3 linked regions of the Homo sapiens genome follow. The protein of the gene in region 2 purifies or fractionates together with the protein of the main gene of each other region. This does not show direct contact. Each region holds a gene or a part of one and is shown on either strand. Other genes may lie near its edges.

Region 1 (3,500 bases), about 61 Mb from region 2:
TTTTTTTTAAATTACAGTTATACATGCATAGTTTTAAAAACTAAACATTTCAGTCTGGGCACAGTGCCTAACACAAACATTATGGGCTCACACCTGTAATCCCAGCACTTCGGGAGGCCAAGGCAGGCAGATCACTTGAGGCCAGGAGTTTGAGACCACTCTGGCCAACACAGTGAAACCCCATTTCTACTAAAAATAGAAAAACTAGTTGGGTGTGGTGGTGCGTACCTGTAATCCCAGCTACTTGGGAGGCTGAGGCAGGAGAATTGCTTGAACCTGGGAGGCAGAGGTTGCAGTGAGCCAAGATCACGCCATTGCACTCTAGCCTGGGCAACAGAGCAAGACTCCATCTCAAAAAACAAACAAACAAACAAAAACAAAACAAAACAAAAAAACATTTCTGTAATCCCATCATTTTGGGAGGCCAAGGCAGGGAGGATCACTTGAGCCCAGGAGTTCAAGACCAGCCTGGGCAACATGGTGAAACCGCATCTCTACAAAACATTAGCTGGGTGTAGTGGTGCATGCCTGTGGTCCCAGCTACTCAGGAGGCTGAGGTGGGAGGATCTCCCTGCAAGGCCGCAGTTAGCCATGGTTGTGCCACTGCACTCCAGCCCAGTAACAGAGTGAGACTCTGTCAAAAACAAAAACAAAAAAAACCTAAACATTTCTCCAAGGTTTGTTAGGAATGTAGGCCATCCCATTGTCTGCCCCTTTTCCTCCCTCTGCCTTCCTCCATTTTCACCTCTTCTCAGACAACCACTTTTGCCTTTTTTGCTGATTATTTTGGTATAAATCTCTCTCTCTCTCTCTCTCTCTCTCTCTCTCTCTGCCCCCTCCCCCTCCCTCCCTCTTGCCTGTAGTCCTACCTCTTAACTTTTTAGTGTTAGGCATTATCTTTTGATAACTTTCCTTTCCAAGGAAGCTATATTGTGATTTTGATTAAGTTGGTATTCAGCATTACATTGTTGTACTTTTGTTTTTTGAGATAGAGCCTGTTACCCAGGCTGGAGTACAGTGGCAGAATCATAGCTTACTGCAGCCTCAGTCTCTCGGGCTTAAGTGATCCTCTCACCTCAGCCTCTCAAGTAGCTGGGATTACAGGTGCACACCACACCCAGCTAATATATATGTATGTATATATTTTAGTAGAGCTGAGGTCTCACTGTGTTGTCCGGGCTGGTCTCCAACTCCTGAGCTCAAGAGATCCTCCCACCTCAGCCTCCCAAAGTGTTGGGATTACAGGCACGAGCCACCATGCCTGGCCTACGTAAGTGCTATTTCCAGCCGAGTCAGTAGTAATCTGTGACTGCATTTCTTGTTCAATCTTTGTGTACTTTGAAGTTAATAATTGTCTCTCTTGCTCGTTTTCTATGTAGTTATCACTAATCAACACCCAATTCTATGTCAGTTCTCTAAGTCTTATTTTGAGGTGTTTAGATAGGTTAGACTTATGCTTATTTACCTTCCTGAAGAAGTTGCTTCTAGAATTTTCTGCCCCATTCCATTCTAGCCTGGTCACCTTCTAATCCCGGGACCTCCCTTTACCATTATCCTGGGGATTCACTTCACCTCAGCCCATGTTGGACAGAGAATTACAAGAACCTTCAGTTTCCTGAAGGAATATAGTTTCCAACCTAGGCAAGCAGTCAGTCAATGTGAGGGTATGGTAGATATTTTCAGACATGCAAGTTCTCAACAACAACCAATTCCCCTTAAATGCTGCTTTTCCTCGGGAAGTTGCTAGGGGAGTTGTTTCTCTAAAATAACAGTGTAAGCCCAGGAAGAGGAAGCGTCCTGGGAAACCTGACACGAAGCGACTGTACTGTGCTGCAAGCCCATCTCAGTCTAGAAGTTCGGTCTTCAGTGCTGGGGAATTTTCTTGAAAGAAAATTTCAATTAGTTTTTCCTGCCATGATCCATAGTTATTTTTTGGCAGTGAGGAATAAGAGAGTTAAAAAACTGAATGAAAACTCTAGGTGGGGACAGGGTCCCTCAGTCAGTGTGCAGTGACTTGGCCACACTGTTTGGGGAAGGACACTGCACATGTCATTGTCTCTTAGGTCTTTCTCTTGGCTGGTCAGGTCCTCCTGCTTGGGGGGGTAAAGGCCTGGCTACCAGCATTCCTAGAACTGACCACTGTAGGTCACAAGAGGTTGGAGGGGTCCAGAGGGCACCTCACCCCCATGTGCCAGCCTTGCCCTCCCCTCCTTGTGGCCAGCACACCTCTCTTGCTCTTGCAGTGCCAGCCTCAGCCAAGCAACTTCTCCGTGGGAAAGGGCTGGGGCCAGGCTTTCCAGAGCTGGGGTGTGATTTTTAAATAGGCTTTCTTTCTGGCTTCCAAATTTTTATTACCCCTATTTCCTTTCCTTTTTTTCTTAAGGGTTTATGCCCTTTTTATAAAGCTCCTTTTCTGTTGTTCTAGTGAAGTTTTAGGAGAGATTAGAAGATACTAGTGTTCAAGCCACCATCTTTACTCAGAAGTCTGTACCAGCCTAACTTCATAGGTATCATAGCATTGAAAGAACTAATTTGATTGGCCGGGGTGCAGTGGCTCACGCCTGTAATCCCAGCACTTTGGAAGGCCGAGGCAGGCGAATCACCAGGTCAGAAGTTTGAGACCAGCCTGACCAACTGGTGAAACCCCGTCTCTACTAAAAACACAAAAATTAGCCGGCCGTGGTGGCGCGTGCCTGTAATCCCAGCTACTCCAGGAGGCTGAGGCAGGAGAATCGCTTGAACCCGGGAGGCAGAGGTTGCAGTGAGCCGAGATCACACCACTGCACTCCAGCCTGCGTGACAGAGCAAGACCCCATCTCAAAAGAAAAAAAAGAAAAAAAAAAAAACTAATTTGTTTCAAATGGCAATCATTCTTCATATATGTTACTATGTTGGAACAAAATAATAATAGGCGTCCCACTCAGGTAGACAGATACCATTCTTCCAGGTAGGACTGTGGTATGAATAGTACTTTAATGTTTTCTATATTTTAATGGTAAAGTTGAGCATGTGTAGACGGGTATTTATAGGACGGATCACTAGCCAGACACTTGTAAGCTCCTATAGAACATTAATAGCTATACCTTATCCTACTTTTTTCCTTAAGACAGCTGTGAAAACAAACAGACTAGGAAAAAACCCTGAGGGAAATATTTTTACAAGCTGGGTCAGAAGAGGTTTTATTTTATAGTTGTTCATCCAAAGCATACTTGTCTTTAGGCAATGCAATTGATTTGTTTTAAATTAAGAAAAAAATCTTAATACCAGCAACATATGTAGTCTTTGTAACATTTTCTCTATTTATTAAATATGATTATTACTTTAATAAATATAGTAAGATGAAAAGTAAATATTTGCCCTTGGGTTTTTTTAACCTGAAAATGTGTAATAGGCACATAGTTATTCATTTGAAATTATCTTTCACACTATCATCTATCCGATATCTACAGATAACTCCAAAATTTACATCATAGCCCCCTCCCTTCTCCTGAGACATGGCG
Region 2 (3,500 bases):
TTTCTAGGAGAGATTTAATTGTAGTTAGAAGATTTAGTGATAAGAAATATTGTGCTCTATCTTATCAGTTATAAATGAATCTGTACTTCCATTCAATTTATGTTCCAGTTGGTCTTATAATTTTGTGGTAGTGTTATTAGTTGCCATTTTCACCTAATAATTATTTAGTTATTAGTTTGGTTATTAGTTATTAGCTTGTAGTGTTATTAAGTCAGAAAGTAATATATACATACAATATACATGCAAATCTATATGCATGTGTTAATATATTTTTCTATCCCTAATTAATAGTTTTTAATATCTTTTTATTTTAGTCAGGTAAAAGTTCCAGAAATCTGAAATACAAAGATTTTTTTGATCCAGTTGAAAGTGATGAAGACATAACAAATGTTCATGATGATGAGCTGGATTCAAACAAAGAAGATGATGAAATTGCTGAAGAAGAAGCAGAAGAACTAAGTATTTCGGAAACGTGAGTATTTTGAACCATCCTTTACATTGTAAGCTGGAATTGCCCAATCATGTGTGTGTACTCGTAGTTATCAAATGTGTTTGTCTTAGCAAGTTCTATTCTCTAATATCAGATATTCTCAAGATAGCCAGAGGAAAGTCTCTGACTGTAAAGGGACATTAGAGATCACTTAATGAAGAAAAATATCTCTGGTAGTAGCAATCAAACCTTCCTTACCAGGAACTTTGATTTGGTTTTGTGTCAATAAAATCCTGTTATTTTTGTGAGATAAGAGATTTGTATTATAGATTGATGAATAATTTATTTTCTATATGTTGGACACTTTTTTTTCTGTTTCTTACATAGCGTTTTACCTAAATAATACCTTTTGTTCCTTAATAACTGAATGATTTTGGAAGTTCTGAGTATTTGGTTGCATTAGGTATATAAAATAAGAACTTTATTAAGGGAAAATTTGTTTCCTTTTGTTTTTCTAATGGAAAGTAGTATATTTCTTTTTATAAGAGTTTTGGTATTGTAGGGATGAAGATGATGACCTTCAAGAAAATGAAGACAATAAACAACATAAAGAAAGCTTGAAAAGAGTGACCTTTGCTTTACCAGATGATGCGGAAACTGAAGATACAGGTGTTTTAAATGTAAAGAAAAATTCTGATGAAGTTAAATCCTCCTTTGAAAAAAGACAGGAAAAGGTAATTAGTAATTTAAGGAATTTTTAATATACTTGATATTAACCATCCTTTGAAAACTATTAACCATCCTTTGAAAACAAATATCTTGGCCAGGTGCAGTGGCTCACGCCTGTAATCCTAACACTTTGGTAGTCCAAAGCAAGAGGATCGCTTGAGCTCAGGAGTTCAGAACCAGCCTAGGCAACATAGTGAGACCTTGTCTCTACCAAAAATACAAAAATTAGCTGGGCATGGTGATGTGTGCCTGTAGTCCAGCTACTCTGGTGTCTGAGGTGGGAGGATCACTTGAGCCTAGGAGGTTGATGCTGCGGTGAGCTAAGATTGCATCACTGCTCTCTAGCCTGGGCGGCAAGCAAGACCTTGTCTTAAAACAAAAAACCAAAAATCTTGCCATATGGAAAGCATCTGATTTGCAAAATCAGTGCCTGCATTTCAGTTTGGGGCCTGTGAGTAAAATAGTTGCTTCTGCTGGGCGTGGTGGCTCATGCCTGTAATCCCAGCACTTTTCGGGGCTGAGGCAGGTGGATCACTTCAGGTCAGGAGTTCGAGACCAGCCTGGCTAACATGGTAAAACCCCATCTCTACTAAAAAAAAAAAAAAGTAGCCAGGTGTGGTGGCGGGCACCTGTAATCCCAGCTAATCGGGAGGCTGAGGCAGGAGAATCCCTTGAACCCAGGAGGCGGAGGTTGCAGTGAGCCGAGATGGTGTCACTGGACTCCAGCCTGGGCGACAGAGTGTGACTCTGTCTCAAAAATAAAAAAATTTTTAAAGATAATTGTTTTTTTCTCTGTCCCTAATATCTTTATATGTATAGCATGTCTCTCCTGATAAAGCTGTCCTGTGAGCATCTTAACTGTTTCCACTGTTTTGGAGGATACCACATATGTCTTTTCTTTTTCTTTTTCTTTTTTTTTTTTTTTTTGAGACAGAGTTTCACTCTTGTCACCCAGGCTGGAGTGCAGTGGCGTGATCTTAGCTCACTGCAACCTCCACCTCCCAGGTTCAATCAATTTTCCTGCCTCAGCCTCCTGAGTAGTTGGGATTACAGATGCCCGCCACCACGCCCAACTAATTTTTTTGTATTTTTAGTAGAGACGGGGTTTCACCATGTTGGCCAGGCTGGTCTGAAGCTCCTGACCTCAGGTGATCCACCCACCTTGGCCTCCCAAAGTGCTGGGATTACAGGCGTGAGCCACTGCGCCCAGCGGATACCACCTATGTCTTTAAGGTGCTCCACAGATTTTTGTGAGTGCCAAATAGCCAGAATTTTAATTTATACCATCACAAACATATCTTTCAAAGTTGGTAAAAATTGTTTCTTTGTGTCATGATTTCAGACAAGTGAAATTTCATTAAATTTTTGTAGATGTAGTCTGGCTCTAATAATTTGGCTCTATCATTTATTTACCTTAAAATTTTTATCACAATAAAAATGAGAATAGGGCCAGGCACAGTGGCTCACACCTGCACTTTGGGAGGCTGAGGAGGGAGGATTGTTTGGAGCCCAGGAATTCGAGACCAACCTGGGCAACAGGGCAAAAGCCCGTCTCCACTAAAGATTAAAAAAGTTAGCTGGGAATGGTAGTGTGTGCCTATAGTCTTTGCTACTCGAGAGGCTGATGGGGGAGGATCTCTTGAGTCCAGGAGTTCAAGGCTGCAGTGAGCTATGATTGCACCACAGCACTCTAGCCTGGGCAACAGAGCTAGAGACTGTCTGAAAAAATTAAAAAAAAAAAGAGAACAGGCAGAGAATGAAAGATACCAAGAATATCAAAAGAATTGTTTTTAAAATCTAAGAATCTGAATTAAATCCATGGTTGTCAGATTGTCCCCAGAAGATAGAGAAATTCTAAGGGAAAAAAAGCACCATTATAAAATATCAATGAGTTAGTATCCTTCCACCCCACTCCTCCCGCCCTTCCCCAACAAATAAAGAAAGAAAGGTTTGGTTTTATTGTGAAATTATATCAGACCTTCAAGTTAAGTTTCAATAAATCAAAAATAATTTATTTCAATTTCCACATATAAAGAATAAAGTAGAACTTTCAACCTTTTTTTTTTTTTTTTTGAAACTGTTAGGTCATGAAAACCCAAACCTGACAGAGGTAGCATTAAAACACACACACACACACACACACACACACACACACACACACACACACAGAGCACAGTCTCATTCATGAACAGTGATGCAAAAATCCTACAGCACAGTGGAAAAATGATGCCACACAACTGCATGAACCTTATTCTCTTGAATCAGTATTAGAAAATCTAGTATGATTCCTGACTGCAAGACATTAAGGAGAAAAAACATATAGTCACCTCCATATATGTCA
Region 3 (3,500 bases), on a different chromosome or scaffold from region 2:
AAAAGCAAGGCCCACGTCTTCTGTCATGGTCAAGTATCCTCTACACAGCACAGTGCTCCGGATCTTACTCCATGTGGGCAAGTCTTTTAAGTCTTTCTGTAAGTTTCTAAAACACAGTGATTTTAATATTTACACTTCTTTGGTAAATGCTTTAAGGTCTTTGAAGTTGAAAGGCTAATTAAATATAGCCCTGCTTGGACATTTATTTTTCTCATCTAAAAAAAATGAATACTCATCTTAGTTTTGGTTTTTATTTATTTATTTGTTTGTTTTTTAGCCACAGATTCTTACTCTGTTACCCAGGCTGGCATGCAGTGGTGTGATCATGGCTTACTGCAACCTCGAACTCCTGGCCTCAAGAGATCTCCCTCTTCAGCCTCTTGAGTAACTGGGACTACAGGCACATGCCACTGCGCCTGGTTAATTTTTTTCTTTTTGTAGAAACAAGGTCTCCCTATGTTACCCAGGCTGGTCTTGAACTCCTGGGTTCAAGTGATCCTCCCACCTTGGCCTGCCAAAGTACAGGGCTTACAGGCATGAGTCATTATGCCTGACTCATCTCAGTTTGTTTTTTTTAGAAGGGAAAAGTATACAGTGATCTGTTCTACCCTCCCAATGTGCTTAATATGAAACACATATCAAGTATGAAATAGTCTTGTAATAGTACTATGTGTGTGTGTGTGTGTGTGTGTGTGTGTGTGTGTGTGTGTGTGTGTGTATTTTTTCTTGGGACAGTCATGCTCTGTGGACCAGGCTGGAGTGCAGCGGCGCCATCTCGGCTCACTGCAACCTCTGCCTCCCAGGTTCAAGTGATTCTCCTGCCTCAGCCTCCCAAGTAACTGAGATTACAGGTGCGCACCATCACACCTGGCTAATTGTTTTTGTGTTTTTAGTAGAGATGGGGTTTTACCACGTTGGCCAGGCTGGTCTGGAACTCCTGGCCTCAAGTGATCCACCCACCTTGGCCTCCCAAAGCGCTGGGATTACAGGTGTGAGCCCCCACACCCGGCCAGTAGTACTGTATTCTGAAAACAATACAAAATAGGTTAGTTTTATCTCTGGGAACTAGTTTATTCCACCTGAAGAAATTATTGAATCTTATTAGGCATTGAAGTTTCAAAATGCTGAGATTTCAGGTTAATCTACAGATTGTTATGAGTTTAATTTCAGATATTCATGGGTTGGTAATAGATTTATTTCATTAATCATGTAAAAGAGTATACATCTTGTCCAAGTATGTTAGCAGCTAATGTTTTTAATCTTTTTTTTTTTAGATTCACAGAGAGTTAATAAAAATTTCTGAGGGAACAGGATTCAGAATACACATGATCCACAAAGCAGCAGTGGCAGCCAAGAAATTTGGACCTAAATCATCTAAAAAGTTTGGTAAGGAATTCATACATGGGATGTAGATAGAGCATGTAAGGAATCTGGAAATTATAAATATCCTAATTGCTATGTAAGTGTTGTTAAAGTATAGTCATGTATGTATAAAATTTGAATTTTAGAAGAACTAAAGCGATCCCCTTCTCACTCTACTGAGAAGTTATACATAAATATATACCAGTAGTTCTCAAATAGAGACAATCTTGCCCCCCACCTTTCACCACAGGGACATTTGGCAATAATTTGGAGACATTTGTAGTTGTCACAACTGGGGAGAAGTGCTACTAGCCTGTAGTTACTAGCCTATAGCCAAGGATGTTGTTAAACATTCTGCGGTGCACAGGACAGTCCCCTGCAACGAACACTTAGTGGCCCAAAGTGGTAACAGTGCTGAGGCTAAAAAATTCTGATTTATACCATTGATTTTTAATCTGCCATGGAAATACTCTGGCAGACAGGAATGGCATGCATAGCTGGGTGCAGTGGCTCACACCTGTAATCTTCTCCATACCTATAGCTATGGAGAAGCTGAGGTGGGAGGATTGCTTGAGGCCAGGAGTTTGGGACCAGCCTTGGCAACATAGCGAGACTCCATCTCTAAAAGAAATTTTTTAAATAAAAAAAAATTAGCCAGGCATGGTGGTGCATGCCTGTAGTCCTAGCTACTTGGGAGTCTGAGGTGGGAAGATCACTTGAGCGCAGGAGTTCAAGGCTGCCATGAGCTATGATTGCACCACTGTACTCCAGCCTGAGCAACAGAGTGAGACTCCATCTTAAAAAAAACAAAAAGAACGGCTTACATCCTCACCCTTATATCAGCCAGAGAATCTGCTTTCATTTTTTTTTTTTTTCTTTTTGTTTTTTGACATTGTCCACTTGGAGATAAGCTTTCATCTGTTTTGTTTTGTTTAAATCTTGGGCCTCTGCATAAAATTCCATGTAAAAAAAATGATTTTCCTGGGGGAAAAAAAGATTTGAAAATTAAATTGTTCTTTCCTCTTAGAAATTGAGAAGAGGCTGGGTATTGTGGCTCATGCCTGTAATCCGGCATTTTGGGAGGCTGAGGCAGGGAGATTGCTTGAGCCCAGGAATTCGAGACCAGCCTGGACAGCATAGGGAGACCCTGTTTCTACAAAAATAAAAGTAAAAAAAAAATTTACCATCTCTACTAAAAATACAAAAAATTAGCTGGGCGTGGTGGCGGGCGCCTGTAGTCCCAGCTAGTGGTAGTCCCAGCTACTCGGGAGTGAGAATGGCGTGAACCCGGGAGGCAGAGCTTGCAGTGAGCCGAGGTTGTGCCACTGCACTCCAGCCTGGGCGACAGAGCTAGACTGTCTCAAAAAAATAATAGTAATAAATAAAAATTAGCCAGGTGCAGTGGCATGTGCCTGTAGTCCCAGCTACTCAGAATGCTGATGCCAGAAGATCTCTTGAGCCCAAGAGTTTGAAGTTGCATGCAGTGAGCTATGATCACACATTGTACTCCATCCAGGCTGGGTGACAGAGCAAGACCCTGTCTCAAAAAGAAAGAGAAAGCTGCTCAGATATATTAAAAGGAAAGTAGGGATATAATAGTTTTGTGTTGTTGGCTATGACTACTTCCCACTTCAGGTTATTAACTGAAGTTGAGGAGGCTTAATTCCTAGTTCAAGAGGGATAAATCCTGTTTTTGCAATTTCTACCATTTGTTTTTCCTATAGATATTCTTGTGACTACTCCAAATCGACTAATCTATTTATTAAAGCAAGATCCCCCCGGAATCGACCTAGCAAGGTATAGATGATATTTTCATGTCTTTCGTGTGTATTTTTAATTTAGTTAATTATATTTTGTCCTCTATTGCTTGTATTTTTTGTCTTTGGAGCTTGCTGTTTGCCACCTTCAGTCAGTGTTGGCACTGAGAATAATGGTTTTTTAAAAAAATTCATAGAAAAGAAATGGAACCTCGTATCTTTGAGGCTATTGGAATAGGTACATTAAGCTATGTTTATCTTCCTTTTACCTTTTTCCTGCTGTGTTAGTCCGTTTTCATGCTGCTCTAAACAGCTACCTGAGACTGGGTAATTTATAAAGAACGGAAGGTTTAATTGACCCACAAGTCAGGGCATGACTGG

The links. Proteins that work in one complex are often made in the same cells at the same time.
Region 1: the proteins of MPHOSPH10 (region 2) and NOL10 fractionate together in Homo sapiens (co-fractionation; one large-scale study listed by BioGRID). This does not show direct contact.
Region 3: the proteins of MPHOSPH10 (region 2) and DDX52 fractionate together in Homo sapiens (co-fractionation; one large-scale study listed by BioGRID). This does not show direct contact.

What each region holds. Positions count from the first base shown.
Region 1 is NC_000002.12:10,592,476-10,595,975, reverse strand, and holds part of NOL10 (nucleolar protein 10), read left to right. Parts: intron 1-3,500.
Region 2 is NC_000002.12:71,133,634-71,137,133, forward strand, and holds part of MPHOSPH10 (U3 small nucleolar ribonucleoprotein protein MPP10), read left to right. Parts: intron 1-314; coding exon 315-472; intron 473-992; coding exon 993-1,164; intron 1,165-3,500. UniProt on the Homo sapiens protein: Component of the 60-80S U3 small nucleolar ribonucleoprotein (U3 snoRNP). Required for the early cleavages during pre-18S ribosomal RNA processing. Part of the small subunit (SSU) processome, first precursor of the small eukaryotic ribosomal subunit.
Region 3 is NC_000017.11:37,626,447-37,629,946, reverse strand, and holds part of DDX52 (probable ATP-dependent RNA helicase DDX52), read left to right. Parts: exon of another isoform or gene 1-71; coding exon of another isoform or gene 72-98; intron 99-1,274; coding exon 1,275-1,386; intron 1,387-3,086; coding exon 3,087-3,159; intron 3,160-3,500.